2 separate regions of the Homo sapiens genome follow, and region 1 is linked to region 2. The links come from fine-mapping of genetic effects on gene expression. A gene starts in region 2. The other region holds a variant in brackets. All regions are shown on one strand. Distances are between the middles of the regions. Region 1 overlaps BRCC3 (BRCA1/BRCA2-containing complex subunit 3). Region 2 holds the start of BRCC3 (BRCA1/BRCA2-containing complex subunit 3).

What was found.
Region 1: its variant is fine-mapped to the expression of BRCC3 in whole blood (TOPMed, PIP 0.94).

Annotation. Positions count from the first base shown.
Region 1 is chrX:155,121,605-155,124,518 of GRCh38, reverse strand. It overlaps BRCC3 (BRCA1/BRCA2-containing complex subunit 3), which reads right to left. Exons shown (of 11, transcript NM_001018055.3): 11 at 1,442-2,914. Among named protein-coding and RNA genes, the nearest start is that of BRCC3, 52 kb to the right of the region's middle. The variant C/T (reference allele first, on the strand shown) is at 1,460.
Region 2 is chrX:155,069,918-155,072,767 of GRCh38, reverse strand. It overlaps BRCC3 (BRCA1/BRCA2-containing complex subunit 3), which reads right to left and starts at 1,260. Exons shown (of 11, transcript NM_001018055.3): 1 at 1,118-1,260; 2 at 425-441. The coding sequence starts at 1,240. CMC4 (C-X9-C motif containing 4) reads left to right here and starts at 1,632. Exons shown (of 3, transcript NM_001018024.3): 1 at 1,632-2,074. MTCP1 (mature T cell proliferation 1) reads left to right here and starts at 1,632. Exons shown (of 5, transcript NM_001018025.4): 1 at 1,632-2,074. RefSeq lists enhancers at 277-998, 955-1,004, 1,015-1,234, 999-1,720, 1,705-2,004 and a silencer at 1,345-1,664.

The DNA.
Region 1 (2,914 bases), 52 kb before region 2:
TATCCTACAAATTACTCAGATTACTAGGCTAGAAAAAGAATTTCAAATCGCTGTAACTTTATCAATATAAATAGTTTAGAAGGTGATGGAGAGAGATGTTAAGAATGTCTATTTGGTTTCTGGTTTGTGCAAATGGATGTTACATTCACTATTCACTGAGGTAAGAAATGTTGGAAGGGAATATAGTTTAGATTGAAAACCATGATTTCAGATTTAGATATATTAATTTTTATGTGCCATTAAGACAGCCAAGTGGAGGCCAGGCACGGTGGCTCGTGCCTGTAATCCTAGCACTTTGGGAGGCCGAGGCAGGTGGATTGCTTGAGCCCAGTAGTTTGCCACCAGCCTGGGCAACATGGTGGAACCCTGCCTCTTCAAAAAAAATACAAAAAAATGAGCCAGGCATGGTGGTGCGTGCCTGTAGTCCCAGCTACTTGGGAGGCTGAGGTCAGGAGGTCGAGGCTTCAGTGAGCCATGATCATGCCACTGCGCCCCAGCCTGGGCAACAGAGTGAGACCCTGTCTCAAAAAAAATGTCCAGTAGAGAGGTGGAAATGTAGGTCTGGAGTTCAGATAGAGGCGTGGACAGATACAGATTTGTGTGTCAACTGCATATAGGTATGCAAAGATAGAGAAGTCTATGAATGAATTTGAGAAGGAACAGCTAGAGAAGAAAAGGATAGCAGGAAGGATAGCCAGAGAAGAAAATAAGAGAAACCAAGGAAGTAGATTTCAAGGAGGAGTGACCAACTGTGTCAATACTGAGAGGTTCATCAAGGATGGGAAAAGCAACTATTGACTTTCACTGTATGGAGCTCATTGGTGACTTTGGCAGGAGTAGTTTCAATGAAGTGCTGTGGACAGAGGTCACAAGGCAATGAGTTGAAATTATAGGAGATAAGAAAACAGAGAGAACAAGTATATACAGTTACCATGAGAGTCTTGGATGTGATTGAGAATAGAGAATCTAGTGTTCATAAGGGGATACAGGGTTGTGTAAAGGTAAGCCAGATTGGTGCAGCTGGGAAAATAATGATACATCCTGTTCACACCACTGTTTCTTGTGATGCTCAACACTTTTAAAGACTGGACACTGAGCTAAAAGAAACCTTGGTGGTCAACTACTCTAATCTCATTCTATACCTAAAGAAAATGAAACCCAGAAAGGGAAAAGGACTTGTGCTAAAGGTTGGCATGTAAAAATATTCCAATCGTTTTATTCCCCTCAAATTTTCTAGCACCCTTTTCTTATTTCATAAAATAGGTACCATACGTCCCAGTTCCTTACTTAAAACTTACAACTTTTCATTTTGCAATAATTATATACTTATAGGAAGTTGCAAAAATAGTACAGAGTCCCATGTATCCATTACCCAGTTTCCTCCAGTGGTACGGTTTTGTAACTATAGCACAACTTCACATCCAAGACATTGACAATAATATTATACTGCTATCTAGAC[C/T]ACAGACTTTATTCAGTATCACCAGATTTTACATGCATTCATTTGTGTGTATGTAGGTCCATACAACTTCAGCACAGGTAAAGACTCATGTGCTTAACCTCATAATCAAATGTTATAATCAACATCGTAATCATCATAATCATATAGAACTGTTCCATCAGCACAAAGGAACTCCTTGCGTCATCCCTTTATAGTCATACATACCCCACACCCCCTCCAGTCCCTATCCCTGGCAACCATTAATCTGTTCTTCATTTCAATAATTTTGTCACCTCAAGAATGTTATATAAATGCGATCATACAGTATGTGACCATTTGAGACTGGTTTTTTTTTTGTTCACCATAATACCCCTGAGGTACAACCAAGTTCTTGTATCAACAGTTAGTTCCTTTTCATTCCAGAGCAGTATTCCAAGTTATGGATGGTTTGTTTAACCATGTACCTGTTGTAGGACATCTGGGTTGTTTCCAGTTTGGGGCTATTACAAATAAAGCTCCTATGAATATTTGAGTACAAGTACAATATAGGTTTTCATTTCTCTGGAATGAATGTCCAGGAGCACAACTGCTGGGTCTTATGTTTAACTTGATTAAAAAATTATGTTTAACTTGATAAGAAATTCATAAACTCTTTCCCAGAGTGGCTGTACCATTTTACATTCCTGTCAGCAATGTATAAAATATCCAGTTTGTATCCTCATCAGTATTTGGTATTTTCACTATTTTTTCTTTAGCCATTGAGATAAGTAAGTCATAGCCTCGCTGTGGTTTCAATTTGCATTCCCTGATGACTTATGGAGTTTAACAGCTTTTCATATGCTTACTTGCCATCTATAGATCCTCTTCAGTGAAACATCTATTCATGTCTTTTGCCCATTTTCTAATTGGACTGTTTGTTTTTATTGTTGAGTTTTGTGGCCTTTTTTTTTTTTTGAGATGAGGCCTCACTCTGTTACACAGGTTGGAGTGTGGTGGTGTGATCACAGCTCACCGCAGCCTCAAACTCCTGGGCTCAAGTGATCCTCCTGCCTCCCTAGTAGCTGGGACTACTGGTGTGTGTCATGGTGCCCAGTTAATTTTTTAAAAAAACTTTTTGTAGAGACAAGAGTCTCACTATGTTGCCCAGGCTGGTCTGGAACGCCTAACCTCAAGCACTCCTCCCATCTTGGCCTCCCAAAGTGGTGAGATTACAAGCATGAGCTACCATGCCTGACTTCAGTTGAGTTTTTAGTACACTTTATATATTCCAAATTGATCAGATATATGGTTTGCAAATTCATCTCAATCTGTAGCTTATCTTTTCCTCTTCTTAAATCACAAGTTTTTAAATTTTGAAGAAGTCCAATATATCAGATTTTGTCTTTTATGGATGTGCTTTCGGGGCAAAGTCCAAGAACTTGTCACCTAGCCCAAGATCCTGAAGATTTTTCTCCTGTGGCTTTTTTCAAAGTTATC
Region 2 (2,850 bases):
GGCCAACATGGTGAAACCCCGTCTGTACAAAAAAAAAAGACAGCCGGGTGTGGTGGCGGGCACCTGTAATCTCAGCTATTCGGGAGTCTGAAGTATGAGAATCGCTTGAACCTGGGAGGCGGAGGTTGCAGTGAGCAGAGATCGCGCCACTGCACTCCAGCCTGGGCGACAGAGTGAGGCTCTGTCTCACCCCTAAAACGCAACAATTATGATAATGCTTATTAAGATGTTTATCCCATATCTCAACTGAATAGGAGGTAAGGCAGAAACCAAAGTTCAAGGTTGTATCATTAAGGGAGCCCCGGAGTGATAATGGTAATTAATTTAAGACACGATCCGGACACAATACTGCCAAAGTCGCCATAATTTTAGGTTAACAATGACTTAGAGATTATAAGATATGAGTAAACAAATACAGTCTTACCTTGTATCATCGTTCAACTAGAGTGGGAAAAAGCAAAAAACATTATTGATCACATTACGTTTGTTTGACATATATGGATGCAGATTATATGACAATTAGGTCATGTGTTCACGCACATGGTATGAAAGACTGGAGAATTACTTTAGACTGTAAACAGCTAAACTGTATTTCCTCATCCTCTTCGGCCCCTCCTCAACACAATGCAGCGGAAACTTTTGCTTCCTTCAAGCCCCGCACCTTCTGTTAGGCTCTTCGATACCCTTCAAATGCTTTGGTTGATATCTCTGCTCCCTAGACAGAAGACTCGAGGCGAGGCAAGGGGCTCTAACTGTGGTCAGCTGCTGCGTCGTAATACCCGGACATCCTCATTATACTCCAGTGTCTTTCTGACCTGCCTTGCAGTTTTGGTCAACCGGGCGAAAAGCGCAGATCTAAAGAGAAGCCCCAGGCTACAGGAGAAAGGGCAAGGCTCCCGGGGCCTGTACAGACCGCCGGGGGCTCGCAGGAGACTAAACAAGTGTCAGGCGGCCAGAAGAAACGGGGCTCCCCGCGACAGAGCTATGTAAAGGGTGTCCAAGGACCTAAATCGAGGATGCCTGTGGCCTCCGCAGCCCTGGGAGCTGCCGGCACCCACCCCGGGGACACACTGGGACTGCTCAGCAGGGTTCCATCCAGGCTAACAGACCTACTCACCTCCCCTATGCACAGCCCCATTACTTCCTCCTTCTCTGTGCTCAGAGCGTGGTTGAGACAAACGAGGAAAGCGTCAGACTCGAGATGAACCGCCTGCACCGCCTGCACCACCTGCACCGCCATCTTGGCCCGACCCTTCTCACGTCCGCCTCGGGCCCACTTGGTCCTGACCAACCGGGTGCTGCGGCGCAGCCTCCCCAGCGCCCAGCGCTGTGCGCTCCGCCCAGGCCTGGCCTTCGGCGCGCGGGTTCCTAGGGGGCGGGGCTTAGGGAGCGGGCGGGGCTGTGGGGGCGGGGCTGTGGGGGCGAGGAGGGGGCAGCGGGCGCGCGGCTGGCGCGCGGGGGCGGGCCTTGGGGCACGGGGGCGGGGCCCGCCCAGCAGCACCTGGGAAACGCCCGCGCGGTTTGGGGCAGGCGTGGCCGTCGGGGCGGAGGGCGGTGGCCGGCCGCGGTCCGGGCGTCAGGCCGGGCGGCGGGGGCGGCAGGGAGGCGGCGCTCTGGGGCCGCAGGCGGACGTACTCTGTGAGCGGCGCCCGGGCGCCTGGGCAGGCGCCTCCCGAGTACCGGCGCCCATTTTGCCCGCCCGCTAAGGAGACCCGTGCGCGGCCTACACGCTTGGGGGACAGCCCTTTAAGACGACATCTCCGCGAACGCCGGCCTCTTGAGCCAGGGGGACGCTCTTTTGAAAGTCAGTCCCAAAACAGTTAAGGTTTTATTTTATTTTGTTTTATTTCCAAGTCACAGCCCCCGAATCTCGTACAACTCTCCCTGGACCACTTCCGGTTGCCGGCCCGCGCCTCATAACTTCGGTTCGAGTGACCTCGGCCCGGGATGCCCCTCGGCTCACCCCGGGCTCACGTCGCGATCCTGGCTTGAGTGGCCCAGGGTGGGAGACCTGGAAGTTTTAGCCTAGCTGTTCTCAAGGCGGATTAATTAGCCCAAGAAACATTATATTCATGTGAGTAACCTTTTGCAGAAACAGTGTTATACTGTATCTGAAAAAGTATCACTCTTAAGCTTGGCTGCTGCTACTTTCTACAAAGGCTTTTAGGTAGCTATTTGTTGGATACAGGGAAGGGGAAATGGAGAACTTCAGTTTTTATTCAAGTTCGGATGTATCACATTAGGTATCCAGAATGCAAGTTTCCTCGGGTCTCCTTGTCTCGATGATATCAGACAGTAAAAATATATGTAAAAGTAATTTTTATTTCGAGGTATGTCAAACGTGCCAAGGATAAAAGTACAGATCTTCCAACTCACAAGTCTAGGAATCACACGTGGATTTTGAAAGCGATTCTAAATCAAAGCACAATATATGCCGTGCCGCCTCCACAGCCCGTCCGTGTTCGTGTCTTTGATTTGGTTTTCTACTTTGTGTAGTTTTGAAGCCAGGCAGGTATGGCAGTACTGGAAAGGGAACATTCCCAAGGTGCTACTTGAAGTGTTGATGCTTTGCTCTTTTCTCCCAAGTCAGTTCCAACCCAAGTCTCCCCACACATAGGGTCCCCATCCAGTGCAACGATCTGTAATGTGCACGCCAGCAGCCTCCGTTTTTACCTAACGATCTGTAAGGATCACATGGCACATCTTTCTATAATTAATTTGATCATGATGAAGGTTGGAAAATTTTCGTGTGCAGTTACATTGGACCTGTCTAAATTTTCTCTTGTTTCAATTTTATATCATATGTTATTTTCAGTTACTGTTTGTGGCTAGTATGCCCCGTCCTCATGG